Linked DNA regions of Homo sapiens: region 2 is linked to region 1. The links come from fine-mapping of genetic effects on gene expression. Tissue or cell type: testis. Region 1 holds a variant in brackets; the other region holds the start of a gene. All regions are shown on one strand. Distances are from middle to middle.

The links. PIP is the estimated chance that this variant, and not a neighbour inherited with it, causes the effect.
Region 2: LINC00358 starts here. The variant in region 1 is the best candidate, but not a certain one, in a credible set for the expression of LINC00358 in testis (GTEx, PIP 0.59).

Annotation. Positions count from the first base shown.
Region 1 is chr13:62,369,668-62,377,782 of GRCh38, forward strand. No RefSeq gene overlaps it. Among named protein-coding and RNA genes, the nearest start is that of LINC00459, 50 kb to the left of the region's middle. The variant A/G (reference allele first, on the strand shown) is at 4,371.
Region 2 is chr13:62,025,823-62,033,937 of GRCh38, forward strand. LINC00358 (long intergenic non-protein coding RNA 358) reads right to left here and starts at 3,726. Exons shown (of 2, transcript NR_046995.1): 1 at 3,437-3,726.

The DNA of each region.
Region 1 (8,115 bases):
CTTGGATTATGATTCAGGAGTAATATTTCCCATAAGGATACATGTAAAGTAGGGAGGATGTATTTGTTGTGTCTGGTAACGTGATTTTGCTTTTGCAAATAGTTTTTAAGCACAATAAAACCTGATATAGAACATTTTGTTTTATTGTCACCTCCTCTTAAATTGTCAAGTATACACTCTACCTTAGAACATAGGTCTCCTTGACTTAGTGATACATTATAGCAGCTTTGATCTTACAACCATGTGGCAAATATCATTTCCTTTCTCTTGCCCTTCAATACAGTATTTGCAGGCTGAATTTTGTAAGAGTTTTCAGTTTACTTTTTATTTTTCAGTTTTCCACCAATATATCTGAGTCCCTACTCCAAACTTAGCAGCACAAGATGGAACGTTTAAGGCTTTTACATAGCATATAATCATGCTATTCTGTATTAAAGTTAGAGATTGTAAAGTACTAACACTAACATGCCCACGTTTGAAAATTGGAAATCAATTTAATACCATCTTAAATTAGTTTAAATTATAAAATTATAATGCATGTAAAATATTAGCACCATGTAAATAACAGCTTGTTGCACCTATTGCTGTTGAAGAGTGACTGGTTTTCTTTACAAGCTTTTCTTTAAAGTGGGTCTGTCATGCATGTGTCAGTAGTTTAAATGTAGTTTATAAGTCATTTCAACCACAGCTTTGAAAGTATGTGATCTTGAGACCTTAAAAACATCTTAAAGACTTGCATTACTTCACATTTTGTGCACAAGGCAATATTTATATTAATATCTTACATCAAAATATTTTAAAAGTGAACAACTTAAAACTACCTGAAATGTAATTGCACACCAATCAATCAACTTTAGCATTTGCAGAGTAATACTGGAGTTATCACAGATAAAGAAAGGATCAGAATTCAGGCCAAGCTGTGAAGAATAACTTATCAGGGAAGATAAATTTTAAATGTAAAGGTTGTTTTTTTTTTTGTTTTTTGTTTTTTGTTTTTTTTGCTTTATTTTTTGTTAAATAATGACAGGGTTTCACTCTGTCACTCAGGCTGGAGTGTAGTGGAATGATCATAGCTCACTGCAGCCTTGAACTCCTGAGCTCAAGGGATCCTCCCGCCTCAGCCTCTTGAGTAGCTGAGACTATGGGCGCATGCCACCATGCCTAGCTTTTTTTTTTTTTAATTTTTTACATCTATTTTTGCAAAGGCAGGGTCTCACTATGTTGCCCCGGTTGGTCTTAAACTCCTGGGCTCAAGCAATCCTCCTGCCTTTGCCTGACACAGTGTTAGGATTATAGGCATGAGCCGCCACCTGGCCTAAAGTTTAAGGAACCTGAGAAATAAATGAGATTAAAGAGAATCATTATCAGCTGCAAGAGCACATCTTTGTTAGAAGTGATAATTTAATGCAGTAAAATTGTAGTTTATTTTTAACTTAACTTACATTATAAAAATTAAAGTTACACCACTGTGAAAATCTATAATATGATTAAAGAAACTTTTGGACATTTAAAGTTCTGGTACAGCCTGGTTTTCCTTCTAAATTGGCAAGTGACTTATACCAGGAGAAATGTGGCCATGCTTTTAAATAGCCTCCTAATGTTGAGCTGACCCCTGATATTGAATGTTCCATGTTTCCTTTCAATGAGAAGGAAGGTTTGTGCATTTTCAAAAACTGACAATTGTCAAAAAAAGAGCCAAAGAATAGTTATTCTCTGAACCTTGAAAGTGACTTTTGTGTGGCATGCAGCAAAATAGGGTGAGCATTTACCTCATGGAACATTTCAGTTTTCCAGGACAAAGCTGTATTATAAAGTAGCTAAAAATTTATAGAAATTCAGGAAAGTTAAAATCCATATGCACTCTTAGAAGAGACATTTTATTATAACAAGAAAAATGTGTTGATCTAGAGTGGAGTGATTAGGCCATTTGTCAAATAGAGTTACTGTTTCTGATAACATTTACAGGTCACATATACTTTTCAAATCTCAATAGAAGTAAGCTTGCTCAAATGGAACTTACCCACCTGAATTTATGAGATTGATTGTTAGGAGTAAAGGTTGAAGCATACTATAAAACATTTTAAAGCCTTACATTTTTTAAGAAAAAAAAAGCGTGAAATTACAAAGTTAGAGAAATACTTTCATTAAACAGCTTTAAATATAAAGATAGTAATTTATTGAGTTTTCATTATTAGGTTTTAATTATTGAGTGTTAATTGTTAATTATTAACTTACTGAGTGTTCACAGCCAGGCACTGTGTTATGGGTTCATGTGTGGCTTATCTCACTGTGAAAATAATACTGTAGCATAAGAACTAATATTATTCCTAGACAGATGAGGTAAATAAGTCAAATAGGGCTATCCGAATTGCTCAAACTCTTGCCACCCTTTAAAACATGTGGATTTTAAATTTTCATAATTTTGAAGGAGCAATTTGTGTTCTATAAAATTATTAAATCTAAAATAAGCAAACAAACTGCTCTTTATTAACTTTTGTAGTGTTTTTGCAAACCTCTCACTGTTCACAATAGGACATTCTCTTTCAATGTCATTAAAACCAAAAATTTAAATTTTATTATTTCTTAGAGAATTTTTAATGTTTATGTGTCTAACCTGGCTGTGCACTTTTAATGTTATTGGATGTCTCTTTCCTCTACCACACACATGCAATTTTAAAAATAAAACATCTCTATGTATTTCCCTACTTAATACTAATCAATAGTAACCTTATTGGAGAGTTATTTTTCTATGAAAAAAATAAAAGTGATTAAATGGTAAAAATAATGAATATAATAGCTAAATCTATATGGCATTCACTCATTTGCAGATACTGTGTTAAGATATATTCACACATTATCTAATTTAATTTTCTATCAACCTTCAAATATTTGTATCGTTACTCAAAGTTCATTGGTGAGGGTATTTAAAGACCGAGTAGCTTAATATTTAACCACAAGAAACGCACTCCAATAAATGGCCAAACTAATTCTGTAAACCTGGTCTTTGTTATAACAACTGTTTGTTCTTAATCACTGTGTGTTAATTCTCTAAGGAAGGGTGTCCAGTAAGAGCAACCCCTTATTTATGGAAACATATTACTGTTCCCTCTTCATGTAAGCAAGTTATGATGGTGATTGTGACTCTAAATAATAAATTTAGAAATCTTTTTTGAGAGACCAAAGTTTATTTACTTGCTAAGAATTTGGTTACCCAAAATAGTTTTATTCTTTTCCTGTTACATGAATTTAGACTAACATTGTTTTAAATAATATACTTGCAAAATAAGATAATTTAACATAATTTTAGTTCTGAATATCTGCTTGAAGGTTTGAATACATCTGCAATATTTTATACATTTTGAGTTGTTTGTTTCTTGTAATTCATGCACCATTTTTTCCCAGATAAATATAAAATAGGTTCTAAAGAAAAATAAAATTTTATATAATTTTTTTAAAATTTAAAGGTCATAATGCACCTTTGTGACTCTAGTTATCTAGAATATATTGTAGTAATTTTTCTTTGCTAAGTATTTTAAATTTCTATTTCTTCTCGGTGACTTATAATTTGGTGTCAGTAGAAAAATTCACTCACTGATATTAAATTCCAAATATTTTTTGTAGGTGTCTTTTTAAAAAACAGAATTTAATTAACAATTGATAATTATTAATAATTTAAAAATTAATTAAAAATGAATTACTTTCATATATAATTCTGAAGAGAATAGTCAAGTGTTCAATTGAGTATTTGTTTTCTATTAATGATAGAGAAAAGCCTTAGTATTCTGTAGAAATCTTGTCTGTAAGAAAAGGGTAAAAATTAGATGAGTTTGATTATTTCACTTAGTGTGGTATAGTGTTGGGAAAATTAGAAGAATAAATGGATTGACGTTCTTTTGAATCTACAAACTATTGCTTGGAAAATGTTATACCATTATTTATTCCAAATTATTTTTTCTTAAAATTGTCTCAGGTGCTAGTAATGAAAATCAGCAAGCCATTTCAACATTAATATCATGACAATTTGGGGCTGAAACAAGGACTTTAAATTGGCTCATTTTCAAAGAATGTGTAATTTGGCACCTTTTAACTTGTTTGAGAGAGAATTAGCTTGAAAACTTCTATGACCAGATTTAAAACATAGACTATTCTAATAAGAAAGATCAATTTTGTAAAGATTGACAATGCAAGAATGTACTATAAATATGTTATAAGTCATAAAAATTTTTCTAAAAATCTTTATTATAACTTTATGTTGAAAAATAAAAAAAGATTGTATTAAATATGTTAGAATTTAGAATGTATTACTTTTTACTAAATAAACTTCAACCAAATTAGCACTAATTTAACTGATTGGAACTGGCTGAAATATT[A/G]TGTTGATTCTTATGTCTGGTTAAAGCTTGCCTTACTAAATATGACAAAATGTTAAGCAATATACAATGACAACTATATTTCTTATTATCTCCTCTTAATAGTGTTACATCTTTTGAAAAATAATTAGATGATTTACATTATGTGTTTAGACAGTTGACTAAACACTTCTTGTTTTAGGTACTTAGTATTGTACCTAAAACATGGATTCATCTCCTAGAAAATCTTAGTTTATTAACTACTAATTTGCAGAAACATAGCAGACATGCTATAACATAGCATGCTATGACATGCTATAACATAGCAGACATGCAATAATGATTTAAATGAATGTATTTGACAGAGACAAATGTGTTACCAAGAAGCATTTTTACAACTGTGGTTTTCAATCAGGAATGTACCTTAGAATCATGAGGTGACCTTACAAAAACTACAAACATTCAAGCTCTATCCCAAGAGTGTTAGGTTTAAATGCTCTGGCATGGGACTATGACATTAGAATGACATGGAATGACTTACCTCAAAGCATTAATCATGTAATTGGATACATTCTCAATTTATTTCAAGTATCTTACTTCCCATACTTTTGGATTACAATTATGAAATCAATCAGTGCTGTTCATCAAATATTTCTAGATCTTACCTCAGAGGTGTATGGTGCATTGTACTACAATGGCCACCTGTAGAAGTTATTTTTGGTAATGTGATTTTCGTTGGCCAAGAAAATATTAATGGGAGCAAAATATCTAACTTGGGGACAGAAATGTTAAGAATCAGAACACAGCTTATCACATTCTGTTATTTCCTACTTTGTTTATTTAAGGATTGCATTTTGACACAGAGCCCTCTTTAATCTAGGCCTTTTAAGTAAGGAGATTAACCTGCTGTCATTTTCTCACTTGTAGTGTGAAAAGAAATAATTATACTGAGACACCTCGTTACTGCAATATAACCTAGAATACTCTGACTGATAACATTTATACAAACTCATAAAGATAAGCAATAAATAATTTTGTAAAAAAGAATATTATATTTGGTAAGTTTTATGGAGAAAAATATCATGGGGCTGATCCTCGAGTAGACCAGAGTCATAAACACAGTTTACAGTACCTCCCTACTGAATAATTAAAATACACAGTTAGTACATGGGTGGTGATGAATTAAATTATAATTGCTATAATAATTACAGCTGAAAAAATAAAGCATGTACCCTCTGCCTACAGACCATAATAATTTCAACCCGTATTATTTTCTTATTACTTAACTGTTCCATAATGTTTTCTAATTATTCCTTAATCCAAGTGCTTACTTTGACGTATAACAGCATAAATTTTCACATGCACTTTTACAGTGTATTGTGGCCTCCTTAATACTTGTTGTCTGAAAGGCCCCTTCCCCTTAGCAGAAATATTGATGTTTAAAAACAGACACAGAATCATCTTTCTTCTATAGTACAAAATTCGTGCCATAATTTACTTGACAATCTTATAAAAACCTCAATTTCTTATTAATGCATTTTTAGATTAAGTACTATTTTTTCCTACATTCGTCCAACTGATTCACCTATTATTAAGCTCCTTAATATCTTAAAAGCTTTATTTATAAGGGGTGCTAAATAGACAGTCTGCAGAAAAAAAAGGATAAATTTAAAATTGAGGAACATAATGTGAAGGAAAAAACAAAATGAAATCATTAGAATCACTGTACTCAGGAGATAACTGGTGAAACATATATTTCAACTTAGCATAGCCTCCTAAAACCATAGTGCTTACATTCAGTGATAGGTGTCTGTATGTGCGACACAAGGGAATGGCATTCACAGGAGTGACAACTAGATGAGCTTCTGCAGATTATAGGCTGTGTCATAGATGTTACAGAAAACATGTAATTTATTCCATTCTTTTCCCACTAAGCAATGCCACCAGATGGCAAGTGTATGTTAAGTGCCTTATTACCAGAATAACTCTAAATTTACTTTAATTGATTTGAAAACGAAGCTAATCACTTAGTAACCTAATATGAACATACTTGTATCTATTAGTTATAACTTGTGCCACACCTCTCAAATTATTGCAACCCACCATCAATAAACAGGTAATTAAAAAGGCAAACAGTAGAACAATAAAATAAAGCAATCAAAAAAGAACAACGACAGGCATTCAGGACTTCTTTCTTTTAAGCTGCTTTAGTACTGTGAAGGCTTCCATACTTTCATTTACTCAGTTTTCTTTGCATTCCTAAAACAAACTAAATTCCCATTTGCCAACTTTCTGCTTTATTTTCTAAACTCAGGTTATTTTGATGATGTAAATATTCTGGAATATATAGAGAGTACTCTTTGAGTAACATCTCTCTCTTTTATGATATTACTTTTCTTGGTAATACAAAGCAACTTGATTGGGAAAAATGCTATCCTTATTTAGAGGTAGCATGTGTAAACCAGCTCTGCTGGAAATTCGTTTTGTATTACTCTTTTAAAACATAATCAGTAAAAAGACATAGAAAAGGAAACAAACATAAAAAGGCAATTGGACAGTGTGCAATTTGCACTATCTGCAAAAATGTATAGTATCTGTGTTCTTACAGGCTTTCTCTATATTTTAAATGTTTAGGGATAAGAAATACTCTATATTAAATACAAATATTTCCACTGATTCTATTTTCCCATCCTTCTTACTCAATTTTTTTAGTGGCAGCTTAGTTTAAGTAATAAAAAAATCATAAGTAGACATTAATAATTGATGTTCAAATGATTTTTCTCTTTATTGATGTTAACAGCCGCTAGTAAAGAAAACGCAGATTTTTTAAAACATCTGAACTTGATTTTAAAACGCTGTCTACATGAATTCATAAATTAAAGAAATTAATTCTGAGACCACATAGTATTGGTACCTTGATGTTTAATTTAAAGAAATATTTACTCAAGTAAAATATAGTAAAAAACGTTTATTCATTCTCTAAAACAGACCTTAAAGATGCTGACTAAAGAATAATATACACTTATGCCAATTCAGAATTCAGTACTTCTTATTTGGAGAAGAAAATACAATGGGAATTTAATTCTGTCATTTTTCATACTCTTACTAGCGACTTAAATTAGCGACCTAATTTTTAAATTTATTTATTTACTTTTTTTGTGTGACAGGATCTCACTCTGTCCCCTAGGCTGGACTACAGTGGAATGATCCTAACTCACTGCAGCCTCAATCTCCTGGGGCTCAAGGAATCCTCCCTGCTCAGCCTCCTGAGCAGCTGGGACTACAGGCCCCCAACACTGTGCCTGGCTAATTTTTTGTATTTTTGTAGAGAAGGAGTCTTGCCATGTTGGCCAGGCTGGTCTCAAACTCCTGGGCTCAAGTAATCCTCCCACCTTGGTCTCCCAAAGTGTTGGGATTATATGTGTGAGCCACCATGCCTGGCCTATTTCTGATATTTAAATAAATATTATTTCTAATCTATAATATATTAACTTGAGAGCATCCACTTTTCAATAAATGGTAATAGAAAAGAGTAACATCATCTTGCAAATTAAAGATTAAATGTAGAGAGAGATAATATGTGTTTCTCTCCCTTGTCCAAATTTTAGGTGGTGAAGTTTTTTATTTGAAGATTAAAACTGAGATAAGACTTGATTTTATAGTTTCCATAATATAAAAATTTTATTTTTCAAGTATCTACTTTTTCACAAGTAATGAACCTTTTAAGATTATGATCAGAAAGTATTACTAAAGTATTACTAAAATAATT
Region 2 (8,115 bases), 340 kb before region 1:
GTGAGGAAAATTAACAACTAAAATACTTGTATTCACATGTGTATTTGTGTGATGTTTAGTAACTATGAAAAACCCTCCTTTTAATCATTGTGAATAGTGAACACTGTTCTATGTAAAATTAGGAATTACTTTTTTTGCACTTGCTATTCTCTTTGCTCTGTGAGTCAAAACAGGGCAGGCAGCTCTAGATTTTCCCATGAACACACATAGGAACACTTGAAAAAATATAACACAACATAAACCCACAAGGCATGTAGAGTTATTTTATGTGAATAAATGTGGATAAATGTATTATGTTCCATTATTCTTTTAAAGAATAAACTCATCTTCAGTGTTATTATAAACTGTGCCTAAATTTAAGGGACAAAAATCATAACATAGTGAATTCCTAAATGAAGATCTATTCAGTGACAGGGAGAACCATCACACTGTGAAGAATAACAAGATTTTAAAAAAAGGCTTATGTGAAAGCTAATATTTCTCTGCAAAGGACTTGGCTGAAATGGAACACTGAGGATTATATTTAGATACTGGTATTCTTGCACTCAGAGGATGCACAGGAGAAAATAGAAATGATTGAGACTGATGTATGTGTTATAAATTCTAGTTCCGGAATTATAAATATCCAAGGAACAACCTGGATCATATGGAAGGATAAATTTAGGGCAATCAAATATTGCTTCAGGTTTTCATTAAAATTTATTATATACATACAATACAGGAAACCTTACAAACTGTATGAGAACTCACAAAAGAATTAAAGCAGCAGGGCATATGTATACTAAATGCTTTTGTCAACATTTATTTTTTTGAGAACTACAATCCAGGATGCATATTTCTCTAGGTTCATAGATATCCATTGAACATATTTTGTTGTCAAGGAGATTATCACAGAACCTCTTTTACAACTTTGTCTAGCAACGTCTTCAACAGAAATGAGAGAAAAAAAGATTAATTGTTTAAAGATCCAATAGCTACTAATGCTATTTTGGAACTATGTATATATTCAGAATCATACTGGTCATTGCACTGGTCAAAACAAAGCAGTTATTAATTAAGGTAATTAAATAACATTATTGGGTTGGGGGGAAACTAGGAAAAACAGAATTGTAGGCCACAACCCTCAATTATTTAGAAATATCCCTGGGGAGAGAAAAAACAAAATGGTTGGTCACAAAGAAAAGCAAGGTAGCATTTGATAATTTATGATTGTACCTAAAATATCAGTATAAGAAATGGTGGAAAATCAGATAATGCATGGCTTAGATACAAATCTTCCTTAACTTCCTCTTCTCCTCAGCTCACACTCAAAACTAATGATTATCGAAGGCCTGAGAAGGAAATATCTCAGATCACAGGAGAGAATAGAGGGGTCTGCGACCCTCTATCAAAAAAGAGTATAAATCTGGCCAGGCGCCGTGGCTCAGGCTTGTAATCCCAGCATTTTGGGAGGCCGAGGTGGATGGATCACTTGAGGACAGAAGTTCGAGAGCAGCCTGGCCTACATGGTGAAAGCCCTTCTCTGCTAAAAATACAAAACTTAGCCAGCCATGGTGGCACACGCCTGTAATCCCAGCTACTCAAGAGTCTGAGGCATGAGAATCACTTGAACCCGGGAGGTGGAGGTTGCAGTGAGCAGAGATCACACCACTGCACTCCAGCCTGGGTGACAGAGTTAGACTCCTTCTCAAAAAAAAACAAAAACAAAATCATAAGTTCATTTTTCACTTATGAAGTTTGTGAGCAAAAGAGATAAGATTTCATGGGTCAAATTATTTTATAAGGATCCAGATGATGAAGGGGGCACAATGTTTGTTCTAGTCTTCCATTTAGATCAGGGTAAGATAAGAAAATGATAAAGAAAGTAGTGAGTAAGCATAAATGTATGTTTGTCAAAATCATGTTTACTGATGATTTTGATAAATACTCACCTTAAAAAACAACAAAAGAAACAGTGTGCTATTTATTTTCTGAAGGTACTGGAAAGTCAACAGTAACTTGGTATTTCTAGTGTTCTCTGGGACTTTGAAAGGACAAAGAAATAGTTCAGGTCTAATAAGAAGTTGCCAAGAAAATTCATGGCTTCGTAATCATGAATTAATAAAATAAAGATATAAAGAAGACATATGTGATAAAAACCAACATGGTTATAGCAACCATGCTGTAATAGATCACAATAGATGGTTGGTGAAGAAGAGGAGGCTGTCTTTGAATAGAAACACTTAGCAAATAAATGTACATGACTAAAACAAAACATTATGTAAAGGTTAAGCCAAATGTGACTCAAACTTTACAAAATTTTAAGGAAAAATTAATGATTTTAACTATATCCAGAATATATATCTTGACTAGAATAATCTTTAAACCATAAGATAAAGAACAGAAATATTTATGAGACATGAAAGTCCTGTGTCAGGCTGGGCGCTGTGGCTCACGCCTGTAATCCCAGCACTTTGGGAGGCTGAGGCAGGCAGATCACCTGACATGAGGTATTTGAGATCAGCCTGGCCAAACACCTCACTGCAGGCAAAACTCTGTCTCTACCAAAAAAAAAAATACAAAAATCAGCCAGGCGTGGTGGTGAGCACCTGTAGTCCCAGCTACTAGGAAGGCTGAGGCAGGAGAATCACTTGAACCTAGGAGGTGGAGGTTGCAATGAGCCAAGATTGCGCCACTTTGCCTGGGTGACAAAGCAAGACTCAGAGAAAAAAAAGAAGGAAGGACAGAAAGTAGGGAGAGAGAGAGGGAGGGAGGGACGGAGGGAGGGAGGGAGGGAGGAAGGAAGGAAGGAAGTCCTATGTCAGTAAAGAGTTATTCAAATGAAATCAGTTTCTGACAAATATTATCTAAAAACAATAAAAACAAAGGGAGAAAGAGAATCCTTACTTCAAAAAATGTAACCTCCAAAACTTAAGAACTCAAGACAAATTAGAAAAGTGCAGGTAGGGAATATTTTTCTCAACAAGATCATAGTGAGCAGTCAGTAAACTTTTGTGAATGATTATAAGAATCACTGCAATACATCGGCAGAAATGGAATGAGAATGGAAAGCAAGGAGCAGGTACATATGAAAGATATTGTAGGGGTATGGGTACAATTATCAAAATCTGTTCATCGCCCAAATGTCATAGCATTAAAGACTAAGAATTCAACACTTATGTTTCAAGCCTTGATAAGTAGAAACAGTACATATACCTATAAACTAGAATATATTAGAAAACCTGAAGGAGGGTTACTTTAATTTGTGCTCGTGTAAGTTGATTATCATTGTTGTTAAATGCACTGAATTTGCAAAGCTGTAGCTATAATTAGGTACATTATTCATTTTCTTATGAAGCCTTTATATAACATTTACGGAGAACATATTATGTACGAAGAACCCATGTGTATATCAGAGTAGAGAAAATACTGAAGCTATGAGAGTTTAAACACTTACCAAAGGTCACAGGGTTAGCAAGGGTAGAATCAAAACACCTGCCTATTTGACTCTAAATCCCATGTTCTTTTCTTTAACCTAAACATATTTGGAAAATAAAGTAAAAAATAACAAAATGAGAGCAAAATGTCTACTTATTCATTGTTTCATTTCTAAATCCTAAGCTTTTGTCCTGGCAGTCATAGAGTTAACTCAGTTTTTCAAGCAGTTATGTTTTCTGAGCCTTCAAAGCTGTAGGTGGAATTAGATTCAGTCAGATGTGGGTTTGAAGCTAGACTCCCTATTAACTAGGTGTGTGACCTTGAGTGAGTGCCTTAACCTCCCTGAGGTTGAACAAAGCTGTTAATGAGCTCACAAAGCTGGTTGCCTAGAGTAGTCCTCACAAAGTGCAATTAGGAGAAGGAAGCAGGCCAATTAGTAATCCGAAACAGGAATTGATTCAAATACGCATCAGGAATGCATAGTGCTGGGTTATATCAATCAACCGATCGATCAGTCTGGGTTAAGAAAGGAGAAGTGACAGATAGCTTGGAGATATATATACTAATTCTGACTTCTTTTATATCTTAACTCCGTGTCACCTCTTTTTAAAGGGCTATTCATCAGAGAAGCAATGAGCAGTTTGAAAAACTAGAGCACTAAACTCAGACGAAACAATTTAGTTTAAGATTATTATTTGCTCATTGCCAATATTATGGCTTAGATTATAAAAATAAGAACTAAGGAGATTAGATCCCCAGTACTTATTTTTTAGGAATATACTGTTGACCTTTACTGCCAGTCTTTGACTGTATCTCTGAACCCTAATTATCTACCTGTGAAATGAAAGTTAAGGAATAAATAATATGATATGTTTTTGATATGAAAGTTCTCGAATTCTATTGCTTGAATTTTAACAAAAGTAACAGAGAAAGAAAAGAAAGCTACAAAAAATTAAAGCTATGTACATATTAAATATAAACTGTGATTGAAAAGAAAATGTCCCACATTAAGAAAATGTTTTTCAGTTAATGCATCCTGCAATCAATCATACTATTGGATTTAAAGGGTGATTACATATAATATACACATAAGTATATAAAATATATGTATATAAATATACGTAAGTATATAAAATAATATTAATTGGGTAAATATAAGAATATTTGAGTAAAATGTAAATATAAGAATATTTGAGTAAAATGTAAATTTGTAGTAGAAATGGAAGGAGTAAAAGCAACTATTGAATCCTACCAAATAAAAAAAATAATGGAGGATTGCCGTGTTATAATTTAAATTAAAAAAATCTAAATATTACATGTAAAATAATAATATACATGCATATGACCTATCACATTTAATTGAAAAGGAGAAAGCTTTTGTCCATTAAAAGAAGGAAAAACAGTAGGTCAAAGATGTAAAATTTTAGCTAAGTATTTAGTGAAATTTCAATGGGACATTTTATGGTACTAAAAAATTGTCAGTTTCCTCATTTTTATGAGATAACTATAAGAATTAAAAAAAACAAGTGTACTGTCTTTCACCTCATTGTTTTTATCATTTCATGAATCACAGAATGCCCAAACAGTAGGTCAAAGATGTAAAATTTTAGCTAAGTATTTAGTGAAATTTCAATGGGACATTTTATGGTACTAAAAAATTGTCAGTTTCCTCATTTTTATGAGATAACTATAAGAATTAAAAAAAACAAGTGTACTGTCTTTCACCTCATTGTTTTTATCATTTCATGAATCACAGAATGCCCAAACACTGTAGAGGCTTATATTCTACGATCGTAAGATATTGACAATGAACTACCTTGCCGCCTGGTCTGATTCCATTATTCAATGTCTTTTTATTTGCTATACATGGGATTTTTCTATCATCCTTATTTAATTCATCCAGAGAGGGCTGTTAAAAGTGCTGTGCTTGTTGTTCTTGCATCCAACCAGCACGGTTGGCCATGAAACATGGTTTGAAATTGAATTTCATTAATAGCTCAGCAGCCTATTAGTATCCCTTCTGTATGAATGCATGTCAGATTCATAGAGAACAAGCAGGGACCTGTCTTAGTTTGATCTCACAGACATCATCCCTTCTAAAATAAGGTAAAATGCTTAATCAAACCACAGGCCTTGATGCCTCCTCATTTCTGAAGACCCATACCCCAGGCATATGGGTTTGTCTCATTTTTAGATACACATAATAAAATGGTCATTCTGAAAGTTCATTCATGTGGGCCTGATACAACTGCTGACACAGTGGGCTTGTATTCTTTTAGAACATGGGGCACAGTGGGTGTTTGCAACAGGCTCTATTTGCTAGTCAGCTCTCACAATGGATCACAGTCTAAGTCCTTTCACCCCAGGCTTCAAAATTGAAACATGAACCCTCTGAGAAATCTTTCATGTATTTCCTTTAAACTAGGCTGCAAAAATAATGAGCAATTAGCTCTTGTAATGATGCACTGCTGTTTAGATGAACGACTTGTAGATATTTCAAGTAGCCCATTTGGATCCTGGAGAAAAGAAAAGAAGTCTACCTAGGAAGAGCCTTCCTATTTAGTCTTCAAAGTCGTAGGTTGCTCACCACCAAGCTGAGCTTCTGAATAAAATGGTTGCTTTTAGCCTCTATAAAATGTTGGCACCCTGTCAGAATCATGTTTTTCAAGTTTCATTTCCTAGTGCCAAATTTTCATGCTATGTAACTTTTTAGGTAGCCTCCAAGAAAAGTCAAAACTTTAATATCAAAAACTATCTTCCTGTTCTACAGATTTAGTTTGATTAAACAGGTTTGTAGCTTTTAAAGTATGTAGGATTTTCATTAAAAAAAAAAAATTGAAACTCAACCCTTGATCCCTTTCTCTGAAAGCTAGTCAAGGGTACATCTGTTAGCTGATTATTTTTGTTTGTGTGTTTGTTTGTTTTCCTACCAACATGAAAAAAAACCCACAATACATCTAGATCATATTAGATTTAATACATCTGAAATATCTGAAACACGTTTTCCCAGTTCATAGAGTTTGGTTATCCATGATTAATGGATCAAGTTTACTTTGATTTTTTTTTCCATTTTGTAAATGGTGGGAACTCTTCTAGAAAGCTCTAAAATTCCAATATGAGCTTTTAACCAGTATAAAGTCTCAGAGTGGAAATATTTTTCAGGCATAAATAGTCTTATTGCCAGAAACCAATTCCTTATGGTGAGTAAAGATTATTCACCTCTAATGTTGGATAAATAGTGCTTCAAAATAAGGTTTTACGACAAAAGGGCAAAGAGTTAAAAATGCTTTCTCTACTGACTCTGTAACTTCAACACATTACTTAACCTCTTTAAGTTACATAATTAAATAATTAAATTAACTTGGTGAGGCAAACATTGGTACAATTATTTATTAACACCTTGGATCAGATTAGTTTATCAGATCCCTAAGACTATTATAGAAAAAATAAAACGGGACACTGATAAGAAAATCTTAAAGGAAAAAGGGAAAAAAATGCTTAGAACATGGGGCATAAGAGACCAACTCTGAATGATGTACCCTAACAGATTATTAGTAACTAGAAAGCAGAGGCTCTCATGAGGCATCAAGCTTCTTTTCATCAGAATCTATGTGTTTTCAACTTTACCTAACACATGATACATCATTCAATTGCAAGCACCTAGCATTTAGCAAGAACTCAAACTTTACTGAATAAAAATTTATGACATTTTGTCTATGGAGTCATGAGTACACTGAGTAATATTAGGTACAGAAAGTAGAATAAGATGCTATAGACAGAGTTTTCATATATTTTTTCCATCATATTCCTTCACACATTCTGGTTTATGGCTTCCTTTCTGTGAGTGTATAAAAAAGGCCAGTCTTTAGTATCTGCCAAATTCTCCCTAGAATCTTATTCTGCTTGGACCAGAAACCAGTTTAGTACTCGCCGCCCCTAAATTGCTGATGAGAGCAGAACGTCCAGGGTAGAAAGTCCTGTTTGAAGCCCTGTACCACGCCAGGATAGTAGGGAAGGCACAATCTAGAAATGTTAATGGCTCAAAGATACAACATAGGAATTGGAGGAGAGAAGTTCCCTACATACCAGGCTCTATGTTTTTTGTAAATCTATTTTATCCTCTCCAGGGGATGATTCAGTATGAATGACATAATTCTCATTTCTGCAAAGCAGGAATATATTTCTAGTGAAGGATTAAGGACTAAGAAAATTAGAAACACTCCAGGAGCTGAAGAGGGTGGGAAGTTAATAGATGGCTGGTAATGGAGAGATCAGAACAAAAGGCCTGGGGGGATTATGAGTCTAAAGACCACTTCATCAAAAATTTGAAGTGAGGAGAATCTATCAAGTAGGAAGGCAACAGAACCATTTATTCAGCTCATAAAAGAGACTTTAGATGATTCTTGTTGAGATTTTCTAAGCAAAAAACTTGTAGTGAGGGCACAGCAAAAACTGTACACATGGGGAATCAAACAGAATAGTAAATCCACCATTTTTGTGCATGGCAGGGCTTTAATGTTAGCAAATTTCCTGAAAAAGAGGGTACAAGGCCCACAGGCTCCTTTTTCTGCCCCTAGTAATGATCTCATGCATGCCAGAGCTACAGGCGCTTAGAAGCACAGAATGCTTACACCTGGAAAATAAGTTTCTGGGTTCTCTAAGTTTTAAGTAGTGCATATCTTTCTTATTTTAGGTATG